5 separate regions of the Homo sapiens genome follow, and all the other regions are reported to be linked to region 4. Evidence: microRNA targets listed by miRTarBase, many of them from high-throughput screens and not tested one by one. Region 4 holds a microRNA gene; each other region holds the end of a gene's coding sequence. Distances are from middle to middle.
Evidence for each region. The annotated mature microRNA hsa-miR-608 reads AGGGGUGGUGUUGGGACAGCUCCGU and lies in region 4 at 1,903-1,927, shown strand. An mRNA with a match to its seed (bases 2 to 7 or 8) in the 3' UTR can be bound and repressed. Matches are read on the target gene's strand: a 7mer-m8 pairs with bases 2 to 8, a 7mer-A1 pairs with bases 2 to 7 and ends in A, and an 8mer does both.

Region 1: miRTarBase lists UCK1 as a target of hsa-miR-608. Seed matches in the 3' UTR shown: 7mer-A1 at 2,681-2,687 and 8mer at 3,428-3,435.
Region 2: miRTarBase lists ZNF385A as a target of hsa-miR-608. Seed matches in the 3' UTR shown: 7mer-m8 at 2,667-2,673, 7mer-A1 at 2,597-2,603, 7mer-m8 at 2,039-2,045 and 7mer-m8 at 1,853-1,859.
Region 3: miRTarBase lists PNMA8B as a target of hsa-miR-608. Seed matches in the 3' UTR shown: 7mer-m8 at 516-522 and 7mer-m8 at 373-379.
Region 5: the mRNA of POLL is a reported target of hsa-miR-608. Seed matches in the 3' UTR shown: 7mer-m8 at 3,606-3,612.

The regions. Positions count from the first base shown.
Region 1 is chr9:131,522,286-131,527,622 of GRCh38, reverse strand. UCK1 (uridine-cytidine kinase 1) reads left to right here. Exons shown (of 7, transcript NM_031432.5): 6 at 1,646-1,694; 7 at 2,402-3,822. The coding sequence ends at 2,583. It overlaps POMT1 (protein O-mannosyltransferase 1), which reads right to left. Exons shown (of 20, transcript NM_001077365.2): 20 at 3,824-4,691. The coding sequence ends at 4,517. Among named protein-coding and RNA genes, the nearest start is that of UCK1, 6.3 kb to the left of the region's middle.
Region 2 is chr12:54,367,467-54,372,774 of GRCh38, forward strand. ZNF385A (zinc finger protein 385A) reads right to left here. Exons shown (of 7, transcript NM_015481.3): 4 at 4,007-4,249; 5 at 3,461-3,630; 6 at 3,160-3,255; 7 at 1,670-3,020. The coding sequence ends at 2,790. The region is part of intron 1 of GPR84-AS1 (GPR84, ZNF385A, ITGA5 and GTSF1 antisense RNA 1); the gene reads left to right. Among named protein-coding and RNA genes, the nearest start is that of GPR84, 5.6 kb to the left of the region's middle.
Region 3 is chr19:46,491,109-46,496,598 of GRCh38, forward strand. It overlaps PNMA8B (PNMA family member 8B), which reads right to left and starts at 4,759. Exons shown (of 1, transcript NM_020709.3): 1 at 83-4,759. The coding sequence starts at 4,357. The coding sequence ends at 2,450.
Region 4 is chr10:100,973,098-100,978,739 of GRCh38, forward strand. MIR608 (microRNA 608) reads left to right here and starts at 1,888; the gene lies at 1,888-1,987. It overlaps SEMA4G (semaphorin 4G), which reads left to right. Exons shown (of 15, transcript NM_017893.4): 3 at 32-180; 4 at 450-512; 5 at 4,535-4,633; 6 at 5,198-5,291; 7 at 5,430-5,543. It also overlaps a transcript of MRPL43 not described here.
Region 5 is chr10:101,575,617-101,581,258 of GRCh38, forward strand. It overlaps POLL (DNA polymerase lambda), which reads right to left. Exons shown (of 9, transcript NM_001174084.2): 8 at 4,632-4,800; 9 at 3,266-4,201. The coding sequence ends at 3,837. Among named protein-coding and RNA genes, the nearest start is that of POLL, 9.8 kb to the right of the region's middle.

The DNA.
Region 1 (5,337 bases), not on the chromosome of region 4:
TTACAGGTGTGAGCCACTATGCCTGGCCTATTGGCTGCTATATAAAGAAAACTTTTGTTTTTTTTTGCATTCATGCTGTCTGAAATTTCTAAAATATAATTTTAAAAGTAAAGTTAACTTGTTTTAGTCTCTCATTCACAGAAAGATATTTGGCAAAAAGTAGGTGATTCGCAGTAAAACTCTGGATATCAAATCTGCCTCAGCGACCTGAGTAGAGGAAGTGCTGTCACCTGCTATGTTCTGGGCCCAGGCCCCAGAGATGTTTTTGGTTGGTTTGTTTGCTTGCTTGTTTTTTGAGACAGGGTCTCCCTCTGCCACCCAGGCCCAAGTGCAGTGGTGAGATCTTGCTTCACTGCAGCCTCCACCTTCCACTCTCAAGTGATCCTCCCACCTCAGGCTCCTGAGTAGCCAGAGACTACAGGCACGCACCACCACGCCTGGCTAATTTTTCCTTTTTTTTTTTTTTTTGCACAGACGGGGTTTTGCCATGTTGGCTGGGCTGGTCTCAAACTCCTGGCCTCAAGCAGTCCACCCACCTCAGCCTCCCAAAGTGCTGGGATCACCGGCGTGAGCCACCGCACCCGGCCCCAGCCCCACCCAGAGCCGTTCTTGAGCCTCCTTTTCCTTCACCTTCATGTTGAGTGGCTTGTGCAGTCCTCTGCCTGGACCCCGTAGGTATTTCCCAACTGTATTCAGGCCCATCCCTGCTGGCGGTTAAGACCCCTGTCAGCTCTCCCGGACTCCTCCAGCCCGTCAGACTATCAGACTAGAATAGAAAGCAGCCCTCGCCCTTGCGCTCGTGCTTTCATGAGATGGGGTCCCACCAACTGCAGACACAGCTGTCCCCAGGACTTGGTCCCTGTCTGCCTCTTGCAGCTTGTCTCTTCTGCCGCCTTCTTGACCCAAATCCACACGCCAGCAGCACGCACCGTTCCAAGTTCCGTCCTTCGGCCCAGACCCTGCCCTCCCTCTTCCCTCAGCTTTGTCTGATTCAGCCATGTTCTCCAGGCTGCTTCCCCTTCCCTAAAGCCACCCCCCAACCCCCACCATCTGGCTGCGGACCCTCCCCAGCAGCCCTGCATTTCCTGATATATCTCCATCCTTGTCCTTCCTCAGCAGCAGAGCATCTGACAGGGAATGAGAGTCAGCATTGAGCCAATGAGTGGTTGGATGAGGGAGTAAGTTACCATCAGCGTCTCTGCCTGCAGTAATTATGCACGGCGGCGGCTGTCCTGTTGCTGTGCCAGGGTATTTGCAGAAGCTTCATGATTCCAGAGGAACAATGTCACACTTTGTAGAAGTGCCACACTTAGCTTGGCCCAGTGAATTGAGTCGTTAGCGTAGCCAGCTGTCTCCTGTAATGGAGTGGGAACACTGGAAGGGGGCTGTCTTCTGTGATGGAATGGGGACACTGGAAGAGGCACTTTCTTTTGGCTGCCTCAGCTGCACTTTCTGCCTCACTTCTTGGATCATGGCCTCTCACACCTGGCTGATGACTGAGTCTGTGTCCCCCATTTGCCGATGACACCAGCACCTCTGAGCACCCCAGGGCCGCCCCTCCTGCTGTTGCATCTGTTTCTGAGCATCTTAAAATCACCTTTGAAGGAAAAGTCCTCACAGGAACACCCCCCCTTGTGCCTTACAGACAAAGAAGTATGCCGATGTGATCATCCCGCGAGGAGTGGACAATATGGGTAAGAAGCTGGCCTGCTGGGCTGTCCCCCCGCCCCTCCCAGAGCTTGAGGCAGGGACAGTTCCACCAGTGTGCAGTTACTGAGCACTCCCCTGCGCACGCGGCCTGCCAGTGTTGATCTGCGGCACAGGGTTAAAATATGCTTAAAAATGTATGTAGCTGGGCGCGGTGCCTCACACTGGTAATCCCAGCACTTTGGGAGGCTGAGGCAGGGGGATCACTGGAGCCCAGGAGTTCAACAGCCTGGGGAACATAGCAAAACCCCATCTCTACAAAAAATAAAATTATTTGGGCATGGTGGCATGTGCCTCTGGTCCCAGCTACTCAGGAGGCTGAGGTGGGAGGATTGCTTGAGCCTGGGAGGTTGAGGCTGCAGTGAGCTGTGATTGGGCCACTGCACTCCAGCCTAGGCAGTAAAGTAAGAACCTGTTTCTTAAAACATATATATATGTATATTCAAATCTGTTAGCAGAAAGTACTTTAAGCAGACTCTAACATAAATTCCTGGAAGACCAAGCTAAGAAGTCTTATTTTGCTGTGTCCTGATGCATGTTTCTGTCTGCTGAGATTTGACTCGATGCCCCTCGCCGCAGGCTGTGCCTCAGGGCAGAGGTTGGGCGCTCACTCCTGGCCGAGTGCTGCGGGGAGGGGCGGTCTCCACGGAGGATGGATGCGGCTAACCCGCTGCTTGTCTGTCTCTTGGCGCAGTTGCCATCAACCTGATCGTGCAGCACATCCAGGACATTCTGAATGGTGACATCTGCAAATGGCACCGAGGAGGGTCCAATGGGCGGAGCTACAAGCGGACCTTTTCTGAGCCAGGGGACCACCCTGGGATGCTGACCTCTGGCAAACGGTCACATTTGGAGTCCAGCAGCAGACCCCACTGAGGGGCTGCCGAGCCTCAGGGCAGGTCTCCCGCCCGGCATGTGTGTTCAGGGACTGAGCCTGGGGACGCCCACCCACACCCACTGCTTCCTCTCGGCGCACCCCAGGGGAGTGTTAGCAGCGAGGCCTTCCTCACTCAGGAGTGGAAACTCAGATGTGTCACTCAGACTCAACTTGCTGGGACACTGACAGGCGTTCCTGAGGTTTTCAGCCACTTAGGCTCGTTGCGGTTTAAAGATCCCTCTAGGTCACTGAGAAATGCCACAGAATGTGCAGGAAGCCTGGGAGGCTTCTGTGAGGAATGTGAGGCACATTATTGGGGAAATTGAGGAGACAGCCTAGACACTGGCTGGCCTGATGTTTTGTTGACAGTGAACCCACAGTGGGAGAGAGTTTTTTCCAGTCTGATCTGGTTCTTACACACTCACACACATAACTCAAAAGTTTTGTGAACAAGTACTTTCCTTTTTTACATGTTACATGTCCTCATGTTTTCTGTTTTCTGTTTCATAACACAAGGCTGGTTGTGGCCTACAAACCTAATTTCATGACCCAGTGGTTTGCAGTCCAGCGTGGCCTACACGGATATGGGGAGCCACTGAGGGATGTTTTCCCCCCTTGCTTGTGCCTTAAAGGCAGAGAAGCGAGGCGGATGCCCTGGAAGCACCCAGCATCACACCCAGGCTTGTGCGGGGCCAGGCTGGGAGCCCATGCAGTAGGGCAGAAGGCAGCGGAGGCCAGGTCTGTCCCGGCTGGAGAACAGCGTCCACGCAGTCCTGCCTGGGGTCAGGCCCTCACTGACCCTCAGGGGAGCCCCCAAGGTGCTGTCTGTCTAGACAGGCTGTCCCACCCCAGGGTGGCTAGTGGCCATATGCAGGGAATGGTGCTTCTGGCTGTGGCACGCACTGGATCACCCAGGTCCCAGCAGACATGGCCGCCCAAAGTCAGCAAGCCTCCTTTGTGCTATGTGGAGCTCACAGCCTCACATGTGAACACCCGTGTCTGGGTTGCCTGGGGTGATCCTCCCTCCTGCGTGGTGGCTGTCTCTGGAAAGCATCCCTTGCCGCTGCCATGGGCAGCCCCAGCCCCCGTCCGTCCAGGCTCACCCACAGTAGTGATGCAGACGTGACGTGGGGGAAGGGGGCTGAGCCCTGTGGCTGGGTTCTGACAACTGTAACGGTTTTGTCGAGCTTAGGCCCCTTTGGAGGGAGAATCAATAAATAACAAACACCAACTACAAACGCCAGTTGGTTCCTTTTTTAATTACATTTAAAAAAGACAAAGGCATGGAGCTGTATGGATGACACACCTTGACCACTGACGAGGAAGATTTCACTCAGCCACGTCTCAGTGGAGTCTCAGAGGGGAGGGTTTCCACACAGCACGGTGCCAAGGGCCAGTCTTGACGCTGTCATAGACAATGACATGCAAGCCCCAGCCCTGGCTCGTGGTTCAGGTGGCCCTCCAACACTGAGCTGTCCCAGGACGCCTGCCGGGCTCGCTGAGGGCAGGGCCGGGACTTGCTCAGGTTGCTGGGTGTTCATGAAGGAGGATCGGGTCTGCCAGATCAAACTCCACCCTGCAGCAGTTAGCAAGGACCAGGCCCTGGTCTGCTGAGGCTCCACTGCTGGCCCTGGGTTCTCGGCTTTTTGTTGTCAATGACTCCTACGCTGGCCTCTGAAATACTCCCTGTGTCTTAGTTCAGGGGTAAAGACACGGAATATCTTTATTGTCGAGAAAAAATTAACTTTGCACAAAAGGAGGTGCTCATCAGAGAGCTTTTCAATGAGACCCCCATGTGTTCCACTAGAGGCCCTGCTCAGCCCAGCCCGTGTCCTCCCAGCGTGGGGCCCACCCTGCTCATTACGTACATTGACCAAGACCCTTCAACCTCATCCCGACCCCAGCACGGGTGTTCTTTGCCACACTCTTGTTCTAGTGTTTTCGGATCAAGATGTCCCAGCTGTCTTTCCAGCGAAGGGCCTTGAGTTCATGTGGCGAGAGTGACTTGTCCCCGTAGGTGAGTGGGCGCAGCGTGTTGGACACGTGGCACGCGGAGGAGTACCAGGCCACCACCAGGGCGCTGAAGATGCTCCTCTGGAGCTGGGACCTGCAGAGGTCAGAGCAGCGTGGGGGAGGGTGGCTGACCACTGCGGCTTCCCTGCCCGGCACCCTCTTGGCATCTGCTGTCCACACGGTCACCCCCCGAGGCCTGGGGTTCTGCCTTCAGGTTTCTGTGTCTTGTCTCCTGCCACCCATGACCATCTCCCACCTGGATGCACTGAGAGGGGCCCCCTGATGACTCCTCAGGCCTCCACAGTGGCTGGGCCACCTCCACACAGATGCCAGAGGACTGGTCCCAAACCCACGGTCCTCCCTTGTGTGGCTTCCTGAAACCGGGAGGCCCTCGCCCTCTGCTCCAACCTCCAAACACACTCTGGTTTAGAAGCTTTCTTGGGTTCTCTCCACCACACCACACAACCCGACCATAACCAGCTGCCGTTTCTGACACCCCAGGCTCCTGGGCCTTGCTCCCTGCTCCCGAATCCTCCAGGCCACCCACATCTCTTCATCCCCTCCCCGTCTCCCCACCCACTCCGCTTTCATCTCTGTCAGCCGCGACTTCTCCCTCTGGGTTCCTGCAGTGCCTCATCTGGGCATCTCTTCTGAACCTCACCCATTCCCCGGAGGGACCCGGAGGATGTCAGTGTAACGTGAAATGGGTGAGGTTCGCTGCACCCCATGTGTTTGCTGCG
Region 2 (5,308 bases), not on the chromosome of region 4:
CATAGGGCCTTGCAGTTTGAAGGGCCTGGTGCTTGGTTAAATGCTCGTCAATCACTGTTTTTAAATTCTTAATACTATACTTTTTGAATAAGGGGCTCTGCTTTTTCATTTTGCACTGGGTCCCACAAATTATGGAGCCAGTCCTGGTTAGGGCAGTGGTTGTGGGAATGGAGGAATGATAAGGATCCATAGGTTGTTAGGAGGTCAAATAGGACTTATTTAGTGATTCATTGGATGAAGAGTTAGGAAGAAGGAGGAACTAGGATAACTTTCTGTTTTCCAGACAGATGGTGGTGCTCTTAATAAGATAGGAAATGTGGGAGGAGGAGCAGGCTTAGGGAAAGGGGTAAATAATGAATTCAGTTTTAAACTAGCAGACTTGAAGTACTTGTGGGGTCTGCTAGGATCCCAGACTCTCTAACCCCAATTTCTTCCAGTCCCTATCTCCTTCCCCACATGTGACCCAGCCCCTGCTTTTCTCTACCCACTCTTCTATAGGGCCTCTCTTGTCCCGCATCCTTCTGAATCCTCCCACCCCTTTTAAAGCTAGATTTACCTGGAAACAAACATGCAAACAAACACCAAAACACTCCTTATTGGGTTCCAATTCTGAACCCACAGTGAACACCCTCCTTTCAGCCTCACAGTTGACAAACCCAGGAGTCCCCCATTCCCCTCTCTTTCCTGTTTAACAGACATCATCCCAACTTCCCTCCTCCTTTCTTCTGCAAGACTGGGAAGTGGGTAGAGTGGGGGAAGTGAGCAGAGATGAAAGTCGGGAGGAACTCACATAGATTCTGGGTTTTGGTTTGGGCTTTTTTGTTTGAACTTCCTGCCTCTCAGTAGGGATAGAGGGGGTCAGGATTACTGGCTGCTCTTGGGAGTGTATGGTTGAACCACATTTTGGAGATAACGGAGAAACCATTTTCCTCACATACCATGTGAGAGACAGCTGAACAGTGTTTCCCTGTTCCACAGACCATTTAGGGGCCAGTTGAGAAGGTATTCCAGTATATCTGTAAATGGCACAGTCTCAGTTCTTCAGTCTTGGATACATGAGATCTTAATGAACCTTTGAAAGACTCAAGTCTCCTTATTTTGAAGACTGTGACACTGAGGTCCAGAGAGGGCAAGGACTGACTCAAGGTCACTATTTATGTGGGGCCAGAGCCTAGAGCTCAGATCCCCAGTCTCTGCCCCCCGTTTCTTCCTGTGCCTTGAGTCTCGCTGGCGTGGGTTTCCCACCAGACACACAAAAGCCTGGATTCTTTTCTTTGTCTGAGACTGAGTCTAGACCCATCTGCGTGGAATCTCGAAACACATTACAGGAGCGGCTTAGCCTCGGGCTTAGACTCCTTTTCCGGGTCGTTGGCGCCGCCTTGTGGAGTTGTGGCAAATTCTCAACAGCTGCAGCTGCAGTCCCAGACTTGGACTAGAAATGATCCCCCAGGCCAAGTTTACACGAGCTGGACGAGAGTGGGCGTGGGTGGGATGGGGAGCCTCTGCTCACTCTGCACAAGCCTCATATTTTGCCTCCCCCACCCCCGATTTCCGTTTCCCTCCTCCTTCTCGCTCCCTTTCCTCTTTCTGTGCCGGTCCCATACAGATACATTTAACGACAGAATTGCTCCCAAAACAGCGGGCAAAGACAGAGTCTGAGTCTAGGGGCGGAGGGCAGAACAAATTCAGACTTTATTGTCAGGGAGAGGAAAAAGGGGAGGACCGTGGGTGGGGGGCCTGGGTTGCTACATTGTCAAGCAGAAAGAGTTGATGGGAAGGGGAAGACCAGTGTAGGCCAGACCCCTCCCGGGTCGGCGGCTGAAGGGTTGACGATACGGAAACCACGGAGTCGGGGGTGGGGGAGAGGTGTCACACCCCCGCCCGAGTTGTGCAGTGGAGGTGACTGGTGGGAGGGGACAGCCATGAGGTCTAGGAACTTGGATCGGGGAGGCTACAGACTCGGCGAATCCTGCGAAGGGGAAGGGCGGGGGCGAGGCTTCTATTGCTTTTTGCTCACAGTTTTGCGGAAGGCGAGGCGGGGGTGGGCTTGGACTGGACACCCCTTGCCCCCCTCGGTACCCCTTGGGCGATGGGTGCTGGTGAAAAGAATGGAACCCGGACTAGGGAGGAAGAAGGCGAGGGAAAGGTCTATGGTGGCATCTCCTTGGTCCCACCCAAGTGCCGGAGATGCCCCCAAGTGCTGCCCCCTGCAATGGGCCCGGCTAGACCTGGGGCTAGGGCATGGTGCGGGGCGGGCACAGTGAGGTTGCAGGCGGTAAAACCAAAGTGCTTATGAGGGACCCAGGATCCCGCCTGCTCCCCTCCCCCTACGGAGGACGGGGGTGTTCACGGAAGCGCTTCAGTTTGGGGTAGGGAGCCGGAGTCCCAGAGTCCGCTTATTGCCAAGAAAATCCATTTCTGTCCCCCCCGGACCCCGACCATGGCTTGTGAACCCCGTTTTGTGCTAGGTTTGGGGGGAAGGGCTGGATGGACATGGCTTTTGGGAGGGGGGGTGTCTCCAAGGGGGCTCGGGGGTGAGACGGCCCCCCCTTTTCTAGGGGAGAGGGAAAGGCAGGGGGCGGGGTTCCCTGAGATCTGGGGTGTTCCCCCCCTTCTGAAGCCCCCCTCCCCCGCTACCCCTCCCCTTTCCTGGAACCCCGTATCTCGGGGTGGGGGGGGGGAAGGAGAGATCATTTAGGGAGTGCCGGGAGGAGGGGCGGGCTGGGAGCCCGGACGCCTGGGTCCCGGCTGGAGGTGGGGAGTTGAATGGGAGGGGTTCAGGGTTGAGGTCAGTACGGGGAGAAGAGGATGGGTCCGTGCGCAGTTCGGATGGGTCCGGGGGCCGGGTGAAGCAGAGGGTGAGTGATCGGCGGTCCCTGGAGAAGAGGTGCGGCTGGAGCCGGGCGCAGGGACAGCGGCGAGCCTGCTGCCGCTGCCATCACTGCAGCCACCGCCAGGGGGCTGGGGAGCAGGCCGCCCGCCAGGGACTTGGGCAGCTCCTTGGAGAAAGTCAGCGTGCCCTGAAGCGGGCGAAAGGCGGAGGAAGAGAAGTCACCCGGCGGTCCTGCAAACCCCACCTCTCCCTGGGCAAAGCCCGCGTCCCTCTCTCCTCCCCGCCCGCGCCCTCCCACTGCTGAATTCCCAGCATCCAGGCCTCACCGCCAGCTCCCCGGCGCCCCTAGACTTCTTGTGACGGCTCAGTAGTGGGTTGGGCTTCCCGGCCACGCCGTCTCGGTGCCGCCGGCTGGAGATGTGCTGCGGGGGCCAGTGGATAGGGGGCTGTGAGCTCCCGGAAAGGGGCAACAGCGAGGGAGTATAATCAAGCTCCAAGCACCGGCCCCCTCCCATCTGGCCCCCTGGGGAAAACTCTGAAGAAGGGCCTTTACTCAAGCTCCTTGCTCCCCTTCCCCACTTAGCGGGTGGAGCGTCCCAGAATTCCTGGGAAGGGCCTTAGACCCACCTGTTTCAGTTGGACCTCCGAGTTGACCTTGACATTGCAGATCTCACAGTGGAAAGTTCGGTCCTGGGCAGGAGCCTCTGGTTCCCCCGGGGTGGGAGGCCCCAGCCGAGGGTAAGCTTTGATGGGCCCGAGCCCACTTCGGGCCTCCAGAATTGTCTTGTGCTTAGTACCTGGAGCCCAGAGAGGGCAGGAGGTAAGGGGTGGAAGAAAAATTATCCAGGCCTACTGGGCCTCAGAATGCACATTCCCAGGTACAATATGAGGGGGAAGAGGGTGGGCACAGTGTGGGTTCTTTCTAACTAAGCTCCTTGGGACCCTCCCAAAGAGGTGGATCAGGAGAGAGTCATAGGTAAAGGAGTAAGATGGAGGGAGGAGCTGAGGAAGTAAAGGGCTAAGGAACAGGGGAGATGGCTGGAGAAGGAGACAGGCAGATAGGCTGATAGGTCTTAGATGGTCTAGGGATGTTGGAAGCCAGGGGCATTAGGATGTAGAGGCAGGGGTGGCCTGAGGACAGGAGAGTCTGGGTGGGGGCAGGGGAGTCCATACCTTTGTTATGTGCCTCAAGCTGGGACAGGGAGTTCACAGCCACCTTGCACAGAGCACAGTAGAGCAGCCGCTTGGCTTTCTCCTCCTCTTCCTTGCTACCCCCAGGCAAGGAAGCCGGGGCTGGAGTCCCCCCTTCACCCTTGGTTACACCCTGACCAGTCTCCGGAATGCTGGGAGGGGATGGGGAGCCAGGCTGTTTCTCTGGGGATCCTGGGGCTGGCCCCAGTCCATTCTCCATGGAAACTGTTGTTGGGGGAGAAACATGGGGATCACCCTAGATGGCTCTTGGAGAAGACTCTTCATGTGGAAGAGACCCCCCCCATTTCCTGGAGGGCAAGGGACCAGGAGTCCCCACCCTGTTACAACATGCATGCTCTCATGCCCTGGTCCAGAGCCAGATGTGGTCCAGCTGCCGCAGGCTGGGTGTGAAACTCCAATGCTTGGCTCATTCTCCATTAGCTGGGAATGGCCAAGGGGTCCAGCCTCACCAGCCTACCTTCAGGGTGAAGCTGGCAGCCAGCCCAGCCAGGGGGAGAGGCATGCAACAAGGATATACCCCTCAGTGGCCTGCCAGCCAGTCTGGGCTTCCTGCCAGGACAGCCCCTTCCTGGAGTCTTGCCCAGCCCCCAGGAAGTACACGAAAGAGCCCTAGGAAGGGGCAGAGGCAGGGTGAGGAAAGGTCTGGAGAGATAAACACAGGCATGGCAAAAGGGAAATAGAAACATCAGAACCGGAGAGGGAAGAAACAGGGATGTAGGCTGCTCTATAATTCATGGCTTGATTAAAGATGCACAGGCCCTAGGCCTCAGTGCTGGGTTCTGGCCTCTGTACAGGGGAAACTCTAGCGCTCCCATTCTTGCTCCAGCAGCTGATCCAGTTTCCGGGTCATGGCGAGGCTGGCAGTGGGGGTGGGGAGCTTGTGGGAGGGGAACTCCTCACCCCTCCAGGTACCCATTTGCTTGTTCATCCTATGTCCTTCCCCTTATTTCTCTTACTTTTTTCTGACATTCTTCACCTCCATCCCAATCCAGACAGCACATCCACATCTCAGTCTGGACAGGACTTCATGGTTTATAAAGCACGGCAGGTATAGTTATCCTGCCTATATCCTCAGAGATACTGTAGGAATTAAATGAGGTAATATGTGTAAAGTGCTATTCAAGAAATGTTAGCTATCACCATCATCATCATCATCCTCTTCCTCTCCATCTTACAGAGATGTTAACAAACTAAGATGATCAGGCTAAGAAGCAGCCAAAGTACAATTAGAACTCAGCTTCCCGTGGCCGGGGACGGTGGCTC
Region 3 (5,490 bases), not on the chromosome of region 4:
TCCTGCACCAGCACCGTGCAATGCGGTAGCCACTGGCCACGTGTGGCTCTTGAGCACTTGTGACGTGGCTGGGAAGACTGAGGACATGCATGTGTATTTTTATTTAATCTTAATTACATTTAAATCCAATTTACCCCGTGTGATTACCTAGTTGAACAAAGCATGTCTAGACAGTCCTAAGAACTGCAGATATGACGGCACAGGAAGGAGACCTTGGGGGATCTGGGGAGGCGAGGGACGCAATCAGACCCCAGGTGTGACTTCTAAGAGGACGTCTCTGGCAGCCATGTATGGTGGGGGGACACAGGATGGAGGGAGGCAGAAAACTCAGGTAGGATGGAAAGCTGAGTCTGAGGTCCAGGGCACAGGTGAGGGGTGGAGGCTGGGGGGAGAGTGCCTGCAGCTGTGGCCTGGCAGAGTGTATCTGGGTGGAAGCTAGGGTGGGGATTGGCTGGGCGGGGTCTCCATGGGTGTCCAGGGGCTTCGGAGCTGAGGCTGGAAGTGGGGAGGCATCAGGGGTGGGAGTGGAAGCTGGCTCAGATCTGCAAGGGGTGAGATGATGCTGGGGGGTAGGGAGAGCCAGGCAGGGATCCCGAAGCAGCAAAGGACAGTGTATGTAAACCAGTGACAGGACAGTTCCCAGGTATTCTGGGCAAACCACAGTCAAGACCGTGGACATCTGTGGCCCACGCTCCCACACCCCGCCTGCCCCACTGCCCAGAGCACAGAGAGAGTACAGTGCTGAATTTCACTTTACTGGAGGATCCAGGTGACACAGGGCACAGGGAGAGAAGCCTAGGACTGCTACGGGAGAAGCACACCTGGGGCCCTCCCCACCCACAGGCAACACCACAGGCTGCTGTGCCCAGCTCAAGGTACACCCAGCCTGGTCCTCAGTGGGTGGGTCACTGTCCAGGGACAGCCTCCAAGCAGAGGGGAGCACCCACGCCCTGCAGCAGGTCTCAGTCAGCTTCTACATCTGGGTGTCCCTGACATAGGACTGGGACAGTCTGGTCTGGACTGTGAGGTCACACCCAAACCCTCCTATTCCTTCCCAGGGACAAGTGGGGCAGGGCCCCCTGGCACGATGGGCTCCTCACTGCCAGGGAATGGAAATTGGGACGAGGAAGCACACACATTGCCCCAGGGACAAGAAGGCATGAATGAAGGTGGGGTCCCGTGGAGACTGATATTTAGGTAAAAATCGAGCTCAGCCGGGGTTGCAGGAGCTGAAGCATACGGCACGGCACGGCACAGACTCACATACAACTCAAGCGTGCTTGGGACAGCAGGTTGTGAAGCCTCACAGCACCGGCCCGCCTACTCTGGAACCTCCAGGGCAGGGCTGGGGTTTCCTCCCCAGGTCATTTCATCCCCTGTAAGGAGGGACACGCGGCCGGCTTCTGCACTGCCCAGGTGAGCCTCTGTCCCTCACAGTGCCCTTCGGGGCCCCTCTGGCCTTTAATTCACTCAGGGGGTGAACCCAGGGACTTTCAAGTCTTTTAGTAAGGGCTGCAAGGCCAGCGCTGAGCGGTGGGTCAGCTCCACTGGAGAGGGGGCACCCAGGGGAGCCACAGCCTATGGGAGGGGCCAGGGCCCACTCAGCCCAGAAGAACCAAAACTGGATTTTAAGTGAATTACCCCAAATTGAACACCTCTGCAAATAATTAGAATGTTGGGAAACACTGCAGTCTGAGTGACAAATTCAACTTGTGGTCAGGGGCAGGTGGCCTTGGCCTGGGGCTGGTTCCTTTGTTATCAGGGGCGCCCCAGTAGGCAGGGCTGGCATGTGTCTTCCCTCTGCTCCCCCCTCCCCCTCCTCCTCCTCTTTCCCTTCTCCCACCGTTCCTCTCCCCTTTCCTCCTCCTCCCCTTCCCAACCGCCTTCTATCTCTCAGACTTTCCTTTCTGGAATCATCTCTTCCCCTGGCTGGGAGCTGGGGCCTCCCCTGGCTGAGAGTTGCGCCCTGACACGCGCTGCGCGGCTGGTGACTGAGCCTCCACCACAGACCCAGGGCCCAGTCAGACTGGGGTAGGGGCGACAGCGGCCTACAGCACCTGCCAGGCGCAGGCCCCGAGAGCGCCACGAAGAGCCCTGCTCGCCTCTGCAGGTGCCCGGCGTCCACACACACACCCCCTCCGGGGGCAACCCGGGCCCCCAATCCTGGTCCACTTGGCGCGTCCCCATCTCGGCCCTGCGCTGCTGCCTCGGGCGCCCACTTCTCTTTCCTCCTCCCATCCGGGCTTCCTCCGTCGGGATCGCTGGCGCCCCCGGCCTGCGAGGGCCCGAGAGGGGAACGTGACGCTGGCAAAACGCGGCCCGGGCGCGCTGTGAAGCGAGGAGATTGCGTCTGCGGAGGACAGGAAGAGGGGAGGGGAGGGCGGGGGCCACAGGCGGGCGGGTGCCCTGCGGGGCCTGCTCGCAGCCTGGGCGGCTTCTTGGGGGGCCACTAGCGGCATTTAGGGGGCAGCCTCCGGCCCCGACGGGCCTTCTTCCCGCGCGCGGCCTTGGATCCAGTGGGCGCCTGGCCCTTGGCCTCGCCTGCCCTGGCATGGGCCCCGGCGCCCGCGCTCCCCTTCTTCTTCCTGCTTCCTGCGGCGTCGTCCTGGGCCGAGCCCCGGCTCCCGGCTTTCTTCTCGGGAGTGACGCCCCGGCCTCGGCCTCGGCCGCCCGCGCGGGTTTTGCGGGCCCCGGAAGCGGTGGGAGGCGCGCCGGCCGGAGTCAGGCCCCTGGGGGCCGTGCGCGCCCTCTTGGCCCGGGGCTTCCTGGATGCCCTGTCCTCCGGCTCCGACGCCTCGCTCTCGGTGTCCTCCGACTCCTCCTCGGACTGTTCGTCCGAAGCCTCCTCCGACCCCTCGTTGGACCCCATGTTCTCCCGGGCGGCCAGGAGCGCCAATACCTCCCCCAGTTTGCCTTTGGGGTATTTGTACTTCCCGCCTTCCCAGGCGTTTTCTTTTTCCTCCTTCATCACCTCCGCCATGTCCTGGGCAGCCAGGAGCGCCACCAGCTCCAGAAGACCCCCTTCGTCCTCACGGTGCTCGCTCCAGCCCCCGAAGAGGCCACGCCCAGCCTTCTTCGCCTGGGGAGGGAGATCCGGCTGCGCCAAGGTGGAAATGCACTCCCGGAGGTCCCCGTCATCCCCGGCCTTGCGCAGGACCACGGCGTCCACCTCGCGGCCCGCCTCTTCCACCTTCACGCGGGTCCCGTTAGTGTCCTTGGACATGACGGACAAGACCTGTCGGAGGGGGTCTCGCTTGTCTTTCTCGTCGCTCCAGCCCAGCGACTCGATAACAGAAGCGATTTTCAACATCTCCTCCCGGGCCCAGGGGTCCGACGGGTCGGTATAGGCCACAATGGCCACGAACTCAGGATTATCCAACTCCTCTGTTTCTTGGTCCCCACTTTCCTGCGAGTCGCTCTCCGAAGTGTCGCTGTCCACCGGCTCCTCGTCCGGGGTGTCTCTCACAGCCAGCAGGGCCACTAAGTCGGGGACACCATTTTTGTCTTCTTTGGTGTTCAAGCGGATGGATTCGGCCCCAGCTGGCTCCTTCTCTGCCTCTTCTTTCTTCGATTTGTCGGTGACGGTGACCAGAGCCAAGAACTCGCGGGGACCGTCTTCTTCCCCCTCGGAGTTGCAGGGCGCCCACTGCCTAACCAGCTCCCTGGCAGCGGCCTGCAGCGTGGCGTACAGCGCGCTCTGGTCCTCTTCTCCGCTCAGGTCGCCCTGGTCGATCTCCTCGATCACGATGCCCAGGCTCTCGTCGGAAGAGTCCTCGGCCTCACTCCTCGCGGGAGCAGACGGCCGTCCTCCTCGGCTTCTCTTCTTGCCCTTCTGGGTCAACCTGTTGCGTCTGGTTCTGTTTCTGCGACCCCGACGGCCCCTCCTTGGGTTCCTGGCTGCCCCAAGAAGCGAGCCAGCCTGCCCTGTTACCTCCCCAGAATCCTGGGCCTGCGTCTCCGAAGCGGGAGGGGTGGGTGCCTCCCCGGGGGTCCCAGCCTCCGCGGCCTGCGTGGGCCCGTCATCCAGCAGCAGGCGTCTCATCTGCCTCAGGACCCTCGTGTCCTGCGCACGGTCCTTCCACAGAACCCTCCAGACCCCATCCTTGCCTGGGATCTCCCTGGGAATGGCAGCGTGATTGACGTCCTCCACAAACTCCACCAGGGCGGCCTGGGCCTTCTCGTTCATCAAAGCCTTCATGTGTCGCAACCTGAACGTGCCCAGGGGCAGGAGGGTCGGCTGCAGGACGGCTTCGACGTCTGCCTGCTCCAGGCCCTCCGGGATGCCGGTGACCAGCAGGGCCCTGTGCGCGTCCACGTCCAGGCTCCGGCACCAGTCCTGCAAAAGGCTCATGGCCATGGTGCAGCCCCCTTGGCGCTGATCTTGGGGCAGCAGGGAGCCCGAGATAGGGGTGGGCTGCAGCGCACGGTGTCAATGCAACCCTAGAAAGCCACTTGCAGGGCTTAGAGTCCCGGTTCCGGTGAATGTGGCAAGGCTGGAGTGGGGCTCGGGGCTCGGGGGCTCTAGCTGCCTGCTGGCCGGCTGGACGCAGTGACCTTCCCCCGGGACCCCTCTCCAGAGCTGTCTGAGGATCCGCGGGGGGCTTACGTGTCTGCTTTCCAGGACAGCTCCCTCCCTCTCTCCCTGACACAGGCCTGAGTGACTCGGCACCGCAGCCAGGTGCAGGGGGGCGGCGCCGAGTGCACCTGGAGAGGCGTGGGAGGTAGCAGCCGCAGCTTGCCTGGCGCTCGCGCCGCGTCTGAGCGCGCACCCTGGGCCTGAATCTCAGCAGTTCCGCTGCGACGCGGCTGCTCGCGCGTGCGCCTGCGCAGAGGGAGCCGCACACCCTCCCCTGTCCCCCGCCCAACCGTCTCCATGGCAACGGTGCAGCCTTGAGCTGGGGTCTGCGTCGCTGTGGCCTGAGACGCTTTTCTTAAAGGTCCCGATGACAAGGACTTGGGGCCTGGAAGCACCACTTTCATTAACCAGCAAAAAACAAGGCCGAAACCACAGAGGGCCAGAAATCACTCAAGGATACCCGACCTCATTCAGGGGATAGAGGCCTCCTTCCAGAGGGTACCGGCATCACTGGGGGTTACAATTCCCCCTTCCAGGGGCCAGGTGGAATTCAGGATTATATAGGCCTAAATCAAAGGGCACTGGCCTTGCAGCGTAGGACCAGGACTTACTCGGGATACTGGCCTCATTCACAGTATATGGGTCTCAGTATCAAATAGGGGGGCCCAGGCACCACCTGTGAGCAAGACACCATTCAGGGTATATGGGCCTCACTTGCAGGGTACAGGCCCCACTCGATGGGACCGGCCCTCACTCCCATACACGTTCCTGTATTCTGAACTATGCATGCACAATAAATCCTGTGGTTTTGCACACGCTTTGAGCATATGTATGATTGTGAGACCAGGCATGAATTTTGCAAGAAAGCATTTCCCTTGACTGGGACAGCAGACTGGGGCGTGTGAACGTCAGTC
Region 4 (5,642 bases):
AACTAGGGCTCACTGTTCCTGCTCTCCCCAGAGCTCTCTGGGACCCGGCACTTCAAGGGCCAAGCCCAGAACTACTCAACACTGCTGCTGGAGGAGGCCTCAGCAAGGCTGCTGGTGGGAGCCCGAGGTGCCCTGTTCTCTCTCAGTGCCAACGACATAGGAGATGGGGCTCACAAAGAGGTCAGGCCCTGGAACCTGGACCACCCAGAGGGTCTCTATGCTTATCCAGCTCCCTGGGACCTCAACTTCCTTAAAACCCTGCCAGCCTTCCATAGCCCCCTGGTCAGACAGCACTGCCCTTCCCAGCCCAGGTGTTCCTTGCATTCAGTGTTCCTCCTGAAATTGATCCCCACCCCAATTTCCCCAACTCTGTGGGGTCCTATTGCCTGGTCCTATGAGTAATAGGTATTGGGGTCAGTGCATCAGCCTATTCCCTTTGCCTCCACTAGATCCACTGGGAAGCCTCCCCAGAGATGCAAAGCAAATGTCATCAAAAAGGGAAAAACAACCAGGTATGTGGTCTGCCCTGTCCCCAGCTCCTTTCCTCCCCTTCTTCCTCAATCAGGGATGCCAGGATTGTTGGGGACACAGATGGGTAGGTACAGACCTGCCAGTCAATCTCAGCAACCACAGTAAACATTGTAAGTATTGCCAGAGTGGCAAGCCATGGGCACAGCATTTTTTTTTTTTTCTTTTTTTGAGGTCGGATCTCACTCTGTCATCCAGGTTGGAGTACAGTGACATGATCATAGCTCCCTGTGGCCTTAAACTCCTGGGCTCAGGGGATCCTTCCACTTCAGCCTCCTGAGTAGCTAGGACCACGGGCACATGCCACGCCCAGCTAAGTGTTTTATTTTTTGTAGAAACAGGGTCTTGCTATGTTGCCCAGGCTGGTCTTGAACTCCTGGCCTCAAGCAGTCCCCCTACCTTAGCCTCCCAAAGTGCTGGGATTACAGATGTAAGCCATTGCCCCCGGCATCTGGGCACAGTACTTCTAATTCAACCATCTGGTGGCCTACTAGTTTGTCCCGCAGTGGCATCTTCATCTCCTCTGGGATCCCAAATAATCAAAATGGCAATAAGTAGGCTGAACGCGGTGGCTCACATCTGTAATCCCAACACTTTGGGAGGCTGAGGGTAGGAGGACAACTTGAGTCCAGGAGTTCAAGATCAGCCTTGGCAACACAGCGAGATCTGTCTACAAAAAAAATACAAAAATTAGCCAAGTATGCTGGCGTGCACCTGTAGTCCCAGCTACTTGGGAAGCTGAGTGGGAGTATCACTTGGGCCTGGGAGGTTGAGGCTGCGTGAGCTATAATTAAGCCACACATTCCAGCCTGGATGACAGAGCAAAACCCTGTCTCAAAAAAACAAACCAACAAAAAACAGTAAGTAACCTCTACAGATGCTTACTTACGATGGGTTACTTACCAATAAAACCATCATAATAAATTGAACCATTGTTAAGTCAGCAACTATCTACAGCAAGTGATGATTTAGCTATTATCTCAGTTAATTCTAAAATAACCCTATGAAATAGTATTATCCTGCATTTTGCAGATGAGAAAAATGAGTCTTTGGTCAAGGAATAGGTCAAATACCCAGTATTCCATGGACAGGCATTAATGAAGCATCAGCCCTTTCCAGCTAAAGAATAGGGTGTCTCCAGGGGTCCCATGTCTGGCTAGGTAATGGCTCCATCTGGAGAGCTTTTACAAAATAAACGGCCCTGGGCTGGGCATGGTGGGTCACACTTGTAATCTCAACACTTTGGGAGGCCAAGGCAGGAGGATCACTTGAGCCCAGGAGTTCGAGGCCAGCCTGGACAATATAATGAGACTCTATCTCTAATAAAAAATAATTAAAAAAAAATTCCCAAGATCCACTGGGCCAAGGTGGGCCAGGGGTGGTGTTGGGACAGCTCCGTTTAAAAAGGCATCTCCAAGAGCTTCCATCAAAGGCTGCCTCTTGGTGCAGCACAGGTAGAAAATGGGGCTGGGGAGGCAGATGGAACCAGGTCATGGAAGGCCACAGATGCCCAGCTGGGAGTTTGGGTTTTATTCTGTGACAGTGAACACCCTCAGAATTTGATACTTTAGAGGCTCTAACTTTAATGTATCACCCAGGTATATTATAAATGCAGATGCTAAACTTAGTAGGTCTGGGGAAGGGCCCAAGAGTCTGCAATTCTAACAAGCTCCCAAGTGAAGTTGATGCTGCTGGTCCCCAGACCACACTTTGGATAGCAAGGCTTTATAGAACAGTTCCCAAAGCATGTTCTGAGGAACATTAATTTTCAAAGGAGGGGTTTAAATGTCAAATGAGTTTGGGAAACACTACATGCCCAGTCCCACAATGCACAGCAACATCCTTCAGGCTCTAGGAAGTAAGCCCAGTAAAGATAGGTTTCACCTGTGGTTTCCAAAGTTATTTGACCAGAGAATTCCTCCCTACCCCCCTTTAAAAAATGTAAACATCCGCTGGGCACGGTGGCTCAGGCCTGTAATCCCAGCACCTTGGGAGGCCGAGGCGGGTGGATCATGAGGTCAAGAGATCGAGACCAGCCTGGCCAACATGGTGAAACCCTGTGTCTACTAAAAATACAAAAATTAGCCCGGCATGGTGATGCACATCCATGCGAGTAGTAGTCCCAGTCACATCACCATGGTGTTGAGAGTAGTAGTCCCAGCTACTCGGGAGGCTGAGGCAGGAGAATCTCTTGAACCCGGGAGGCGGAGGTTGCAGTGAGCTGAGATCATGCACTGCACTCCAACCTAGCGGCAGAGCAAGACTCCGTCTCAAAAAAAATAAAATTAAAAAAATAAATAAACATCTTGGGGAAACATCACTTTAGGAATATTTATCTGGCCCCAGGCACTGGATGGATGAAAATAGGGTGAGTCTGGAGGCAGGAAAAGCAGTGAGGAGGCTGGGGGCATCATTTGGGTCAGAGGAAGGGGCCTGAGCAGGCTTATGGAGACGGGGGACAGATGGTAGTGGCTTGTACCAGGTGAGGGAGCAGGAGGAGACACAAAGAGGCCTGTATGGATTTAAACCCTGGGTAACAGGCAAGAGGAGGAATCATTAACGTGGCAAAGGAGTCAAGAGGCTGGCAGCTGAGGGCATTTGACAGGCAGAGAAGACCAGTGTGGCTGGAGTAGGGTGAGTGAGACCAGAGGAATGGGCAGAGTCCCATCACACAGGGCTAGGAGCATGTGGGACTCTATATTCAGGTCACTGATGAGCCGATACAGTGGTGTGATCCACTTGACTTTTTTTCAGACATGGTCTCACTCTGTTGCCCAGGCTGGAGTGCAGTGGTTCACTGCAGCCTCGACCTCCTGGGCTCAAACAATTCTCTTGCCTAAGCCTCCCAAGTAGCTAGGACTACAGGTGCATGCCACCACATAGAGATGAGGTCTTGCTATATTGTCCAGGCTGGTCTTGGACTCCTGGGCTCCAGTGATCCTCCCACCTCAGCCTCCCAAAGTGCTGGGATTACAGGTGTGAGCCACCACACCTGGCTAGGTTTACATTTTTAGAATATCCCTTGGAAAGTGGTTGGAGAGTAGCAAAAGTGTGTTGTTTGGTAAAATATCTCTGGAAGGAAACTTCAGACAATAGTAACAGCAGTCTTCTTGGCAGGCAACCTGGGAGACAGGGATAAATGGGAGACTCCCTGTTTATAACATACCCCTTTGTACTTTCTAAGTTTTATACTATGTACATGTATTCATTGACTGAATAAATAGCTTTATAAAGTCGTTTTTATAAAAGAGAAGGTTGGGAGGAGCTATCAGGTAGCAACTGCAGATGTCTAAGGAAGAGGTCATGGTGGTCATTTGGACTGGGTGCTGGTGGTGGAGTCAAAGTGGACCAAGTCAAGAGACTTTTAGGACAATGAATTAATTGTGGAGAGGGACTGAATGTGGGGGTGAGGAAGTAGGAAGCAGCAAGGATGATCCCTGGCTTCTAGGTTGAGTCGTAGGTTGGATGAAGTGAGGTGGGAAAGACTGGATAAACAGGTTTAGGAAAGATGTAGGTTATGGAGGAGGGGATGAACTTGGCTTCTGACAAGGTGAGTTTGAAACATCCCTGGGATATCGGGTGGAGAGCAAGCTGGCATCTAGGGATAGATTTGGTTGTATCACCCCAGCGAGGAGGGCAGGAGTTCCAAGAATAGAAAGAGGTGCTGAGAAGGAGCTGGATGGGAGAGGAGAAGCACCTCAGGATGGTGGAATCCCTGGGAGCTCTTGAACCAGAGGTGGAGGGAACTGCAAGAGACACAGGAGATATTGGCAGAATGGTGTCAGGTAATCTGAGGGACAGAGGAGAGAAATAGGGTCATGTTACTGGGAGGCCAAGGACAGTGAGTTCCAGGAAATATTCTGGAGCAGTGAGAAGGATCACAGGTATCTTGGAAAGAACCGTTTGTCCTGTGGGTGGGGGCAAGAGCCAAACTACAAAGCTAGACTAATGGAGGAGGCTTCTAGTCAGGCAGGGGGCTCACAGCCCTCTCCACCTCATCCCACAGACGGAGTGCTTTAACCATGTGCGGTTCCTGCAGCGGCTCAATTCTACCCACCTCTATGCATGTGGGACTCACGCCTTCCAGCCCCTCTGTGCAGCCATTGTGAGTATACCTGTGTTGTGCCAGATCTCTGTTGACTTCATTAGGGATGGGATCATGTTCAAGATGCCAAAGAAGAGACTCAGAGCCAGTGAAGGAGACGGATGGTTTATTAAGGGGACTTCCATACAGGGCACTCCAGTGGCGGCGGGCTGCACTGGAGAACCATTCCCCTTTGTAAAAACCATGCAGTTTTTATAGCATTTTCACTTAGCATCCTCCCCCTAATCACCTCCACCTGGCAAACTTCATTTAACCCAAAACAAAGGGCCTTGATCCCCTGGACAGCATGTGTTCCACAGGATGGGCTAGGGGCTCAGATGTTCTTCATAGATAAGGAGTGAATCTCTAGGTTGGCCACTTGCAGATTTGGAACTCCAAACATACATTGTTTTGAGGCCATAAGGTCATTCTCAGGGGATGCTTAAGTTATTGCTGTCAGGTGCATCTGCCATACAACCTGCCCCTATCCCTGATCGCTGATCCCTGACCCCAGACTGATCTGACTTTGAGCCACTGTCCCTGCCTGTCTTCGGAACCACTTACTGCTGGTTCCTTGTTCCCTAGGATGCTGAGGCCTTCACCTTGCCAACCAGCTTCGAGGAGGGGAAGGAGAAGTGTCCTTATGACCCAGCCCGTGGCTTCACAGGCCTCATCATTGGTGAGCAGGCCTTCTTCCCTATCACAGACATGGTATTTTTAGGATGTGGATCTCATCTCTAGGACCTGCCACCATGTATATGTCATGTGCCCTGTTGAATATGACATGTCTCTCATGCCTGGAATATCCCCACGCCAGATGGAGGCCTCTACACAGCCACTAGGTATGAATTCCGGAGCATTCCTGACATCCGCCGGAGCCGCCACCCACACTCCCTGAGAACTGAGGAGACACCAATGCATTGGCTCAATGGTTAGGAGGATGAGGCACAGGATGATGGGGGGTAGGGGACTATTTCTTCATTTTTACTCCCTTGGCCAGCTGACCACCCCACCCCCAAATCCCCAGGTG
Region 5 (5,642 bases), 600 kb from region 4:
AAGGCCAGGGCCTGTCTCGCTCCCCTTTCCCGGTGCCCACGTCTGCCTTGTGAGCAGCTGGAACCCAGGAGGAAAGGCCGGGGCCTGTCTTGCTCCCCTTTTAGTGTAGGTCTAAGGTCAAGACTGAGGTCCCCACCCCAGGCCCTGGGAAAAGATGAAGCTCCAAGCTCAGTAGGGGTGGGGCAGAGCAGCCCAGCGGGGACTTGCATCTTGCACAGTGTCAAGAAGAAACTGAAATTAGGGAGGCTCAGACTGAACATGTGGCAGCCCTGGGCTCATGTGAGGCTCCCCCTTCCCCACACACTTCAGAGGATGCCCTCTACCTCACAGCAGGGCCTGCTCACACTTGCTGTCCCTCTGCCTTTGTACAGGGAGAGCCCAACACGCACTCGGTCTATTGGGTTTCTGCAGTCACATTAACAAATTACACCAACTTACTGGCTTAAACACCACAGTCATTATCTCACAGTTCCACCAGCTCAAAATCCAACAGGGCTCCCTGAGATAAGGCCAGACATCAGCAGAGCTGCCATCCTTCTGGAGGCTCTAGAGTAGAAGCTGTTCCTTGGCTTCTCTGACTCTTAGAGGCTGCTCACACTTGGCTGGAGACCTTTCCCCATCTTCAAAGCCAGAAACTTCGCATCTCTCTGACCTTTCCTCGTCAAGTCTCTCTTTGATTGTAGATTGTAGCTTTTTTTTTTTTTTTTTTTTTTTTTGAGACAGGGTCTCACTCTGTTACAACTCAGGCTGGAGTGCAGTGGTGTAATCTCAGCTCATTGGAACCTCTGCACCTCTGCCTCCCAGGCTCAGGTGATCCTCCCACTTCAGCCTCCCAAGTAGCTGGGATTATAGGCACCACTAGGTCTGGCCATGCCTAGCTAACTTTTGAATTTTTTTTTTTTTTTTTTTGGTAGAGATGGGGTTTTGCCATGTTGACCAGGCTGGTCTCAAACTCCCAGGCTCAAGCAATCAACCCGCCTTGGCCTCGCAAAGTGTTGGGATTACAGGCGTCAGCCACCACACCCGGCCCTGACTGTAGCTCTTAAGAACTCATGTTTACACTGGGCCCACAGGATTACTCAGCATAATCACCTCATCTCAAAATGCTTAAGCTTCATCACAACTGCAAAGTCCCTCTAGCCAACTAAGGTGACATATTCACAGGTTCCAGGGATTAAGACATGGACATCTTCAGTGGACCATTATTCTGCCTGCCACACGTGGCCTGTCCAAGGACAACCCTGGCTCAGGGACAGAGTGATGAAGAACTGGGCTGGAGCAGGGAGCAGGCTTGTGGGGTCTCTCTGCCTACTCCAGGCCAGGTGGTGACTGGGTGGTAGGTGTGCGGGGTGCTCAGCTGCTGGACAGGACCCCAGTTACCACCAGGGCCCTGAAATGGAGTCTCTCTCCATTCAGGATGAATGGGAGACTGGGCTGAAAGCCTGTTCGAGAACCTGGTTCAGCGCTAAAGTGCCTGGGAACCCCCAATATTCATATTCCTTGCTTACTTGGACTCAGAGAACCTCATTTCACCTCATTTTACCTCCAAACTGGGCAGCCTTTCTCAAGACTCAGAAATCCCTCCATTAGCTCCTCTGCCTCAGTGGCTCTTCTCCTGGGCTTCTGTGTCAGACTGGGCAGCTGAAGGGACACCCAGATGGGTCACTGGAGGTGGGGCATGCTCCCTCTTTATCCCACGACTTTGTGTTGCCCTGGCCAGGAGGTGGGACCAAGAGTCTGCATGGTTTCAAGGCAGTCTCTGAATTCTGAGTCTCCTGGGGGAAGGAGTTAAGGCAGATGGGGAGGGATGTCAAGAATGGAGGTCAGACCCTGATTTCAGACAAAGAAGTAAGCGGCATCCCTCCCTGCAGTTCTGGGACCTCCCTGTGTGTAGGAAAACTTGGGCGAGCTACTCTATGGCCTGCTGCACACTGGTTCCCTCCACCCCCAGCCCTGGAGGTCCTGTTCCTTGGGCCTGGAGCAGGCTGCGGCAAAAGGAGAGAAGCAACTTCCACATTTGGACCCAGACACGCATCTTTGGACTTCTGCTGACTCCAACTCTTGCTGGGGACAGCAGCAGGCACTGAGGGACCAGTCCAGAGTGGGACCAAAAGCAAGCCTTCACACCCGGGGGCCCAGGCTTTCCCCAGCCCCTCTCCTATCTACCCAGGCCCCCACTGTGGCTCTTGGCAGCCATGTGTCCCTGGCAGTAGACACTCTCAGGGGAGAGGCTCGCCCCTCTAGAAGGCTTCTGGGCTTTTGATTGGCCATCTCTTGGGTTGGTGCTGAGCTGCGAAAGGGCCCTCCAGGTCCTGTGGGCTTCTGATTCCTTTCCCAACATGATCAGTGCTGGGAAGACCCCCTGACTTACACTTCAGGGGTATGAGCTTGAGTTGGGGGGCCTACTCCCAGGCTGCTAGGATCCCATGATCGAGACCAGGCAGACAAAGGCTGGCTCCGGGACTCTGCAAGTTACCAACAGAAATGTAGCCCACCCAGCACACTCAAGGTGGGATCCCCCTGTGGAGCCAAAGCTGCCCTCACGCGTCACCACCCAACTCCCAGCATGGGGCCTCTCCAGGCTCCTCCTCCAATACAGTCTCCTTCTGACTCTGTGCCCACTCCTCCTCATACTTGGGCTGCCTGAAGCTCCTTCCATGACCCCACTCCCCCACCAAGTCTCCCTGCCCTGTGAAACAGCCTCAGGAAGACATCCCGCACTCCCCAGCGGGACCTGCTCCTGTCTGCTCTATCAAACCAAGCTCTGCTTCCAGTCCTCTGCCAGCCCAGCCTGCTCCTGACTCCCAGCACACAGTGTCCTCTCTAAAGCTGTTCCTTAATTGTCCCCAAACAGAGCCTGCTGACTCCTCTCAGAGGCAATTTCCCTGCCAGTCTGCCTCTCTCCTCCTCCGGGAAGCCTTCCCTGGCCGCCCATCCCTGTGTACACGGTCACCATTTAGTTGTTCCTAATGGTTTCCTGAGTCTTGTCACTTTTGCTCATGTCCCCTGATAGCCTGGTCTAAGGTAGGGCCTGCAGAAGATGCTGATGACTAGATAGGAGCTCTGGGTGCCTGGCTCCAACATTCTCCCTGGTCACAGCCACTGCTGTCCTTGCTGTGAGTTTAGGAGCTGACTCAGGCCAGTCCTGTCTGGAGGGCAGTTAACACAGCCTTTCTGGGCTCCTCTTTTCAGTTCCCATCTCTGTCGTCCCTGCCTGGGTGGAACAAGGTAGCCAGAGGCTGCAGCAGCTCAGACACCAGGCAGGTTCAATGTCAAATGCACTTTACTGGGCCCCTGGGCCTCCCAACACTGTCCTCACCAAGGCTGGGGCACCCCATTCCCAGCACCACCAGCTGCCCAGGAAGCAGGACGGATAGAGGGAACACATGTGGAATGGCTGTTCTCCTACCCCAGAGGGTGCCGGATGATGTTGACAGCACGGCTGCTTCCCTCTCCCCTGCAGCTTCTGTCCCCACCCAGCAGCTTGGCCTTTCCCATAGCAGGGAAGGGGGATACCTGGGGCTTCAAACCAGCCACCTGCTCCTGCTTAAAATGGGGCAAGGGGCCATTTGCAAAATTCTTCGAGGGGCAGTGGTGAGGTAGAAGGGGTGGCAGCCTGCTCCTGTCTGGGAGAGGGCTGGGCAGACACTGGGAGCCGGGCAGACACTGGGAGCCGGGCTGGCTCTTGCTTCAGGCCCAGAGCCCTGGGCCCTGCTCGCTGAGGAAGCTGGTGGTTGGAGCGGCGAGGTTCAGCCAGCTGAGGCTGGAGGGAGTACTGGGTGGCCAGGAGGGGTAGCCAGTCCAACTCGGCTCTCCTCAGCACCCCCAGCCATGGGTCACCAGTCCCGCTCAGCAGGTTCTCGGTAGGGGAGGCCTAAGAGCCTGAAGACATCCTTCTCAGTGGGAGTGGGCAGCACTCGGCCAGGCCCCACCTTGCAGCCATGGGTGTTCCGGACCACAGCAGTGCTGAGGGCATGTTCTGACAGACTCATGCCCTTGGTTTTGGCCAGGGCTCGCATGGAGCGGTTGAAGTGTGCAGAGCCGGTGAAGTAGAGCAGGGCACAGGCAAACTCGCTATAGGGCACCACGATGATGTCCAGGCGCCGGTGCCGCCGCCCTGGCCCTGGGAGCCGGCACACCCCCAAGTACTTCTGTTGCTGACCATTCTCCTCTTGGCTCACCAAGTCATCTGTGAGGAACCCTGGCCCAACAGAGGGGACTGCTGGGAGGGCAGGGAACCAGGCCTGGGCTGTCCCATCCTCCCAGGTCTCTCCTGATGTCTAAGCTGGGGCTTGCCCAGGTATTAGCTGGGTGACACTACCCTCTCTGGGCCCTTCTCCTTTTCTGTAAAACATGGATAGTAATTCCCATCTCCCCCATAGTGTCACAGAAAGATCAGATGAGATACTTGGCCTGCAGGGTTCACTGAGCACCTCCACATAGGTGTGGCGGGGCTGTTCCATCTCTCCCTGGAGAGGATTCCGGCCCCGATAGAGAGATGGGATGCTGGCAAAGCACTGTTCCCCTGCTTCCTGCCTCAGGACTGGAACTTCTGAGGTTCTCCCTCTGAGGGGGCCCCCAGACCTGTGCTGCCCTCTGTCAACCTGCTCACCCAGAGATGGAGCTTATACCTTCCTGCCGAAGACTGTCAAGGAGGCGGCTGAAGATACCCCGGTGGGACCGGCCATCTGGGTGAGTGATGAGCACGTCGACATCACCACAGGTCGCCTTTCCCCGTCGGTATGAACCACATGCCACACACAGCAGCCCAGAGTTAAAGGCCTGGGCTGCTTTCTGGACCTGGGAAAGAGAGCGGTGACAGGTGAGGGGCTGTGCGTGGGGAGCTCCTCTCCCACAGCAGTACAAGGGCCTTCCCAGACTCGGGCCCACACCCTCAGCTTATGCCCATTCCAGATGCCTGCTGCAAGCCCAGGGGAATCCACCCTGAGGAGCTGCTGTTCTTTCCCTTCGCTAGGACAGGAGAGAAGAAAAAGCTCACTGTGCAGGAGGCAAGCCTGAGGAGAGACGGGAGAAGGTGCCGGCTCTGCTTCTGAGAGTGGGCACTGAGCTTGCCCTGTGGAGCTCTTTAAGAGTAGGGAGACACAGACTCTCTCTGCCCCTGCCCCAGCCCACGTGCCCAGGTCTGTGAAACTCCACTTAGGACAAGGGGCCAGGTGCTGAAAGCCCTCAGCCAGGTCTAGGCAGCCCCAGATATCTACTGATTTGGAGCTAAAGGTTTGGAATATGTGAGCTGGGGTTTGAGGACTGAGCAGGTGGCTGGCAGCATGCGCCAGGCCCAGGCCCAGGAGAAAGTGGAGCACAGAAATACAGCTGCACCTGTGGGAAAGGAGAGGAAAGAAAGCAAAGAGGGGGCAGTTCTGAGCCAACACCCACATCCTTTCTTGGTGGGGAGGGAGCTGAGACAGCAACTGCCAGCTGAAGGATTGTCCCTCTGAGGAAAAATAAACCCATTAGCCTCCACCCCTGAGACACTGAGGTTCTTTCATATGCAGATGGCCTCCTGCCTCCACCCCAGGACACTGAAAATTCTGGGGCCCCGGACACCTCAAGTATCCTGACAGGAGGGCTCCGCTAATCCCCTTACTCCCTTCTTGAGCCTCCCAAGAGAATGGAAGGAGGAG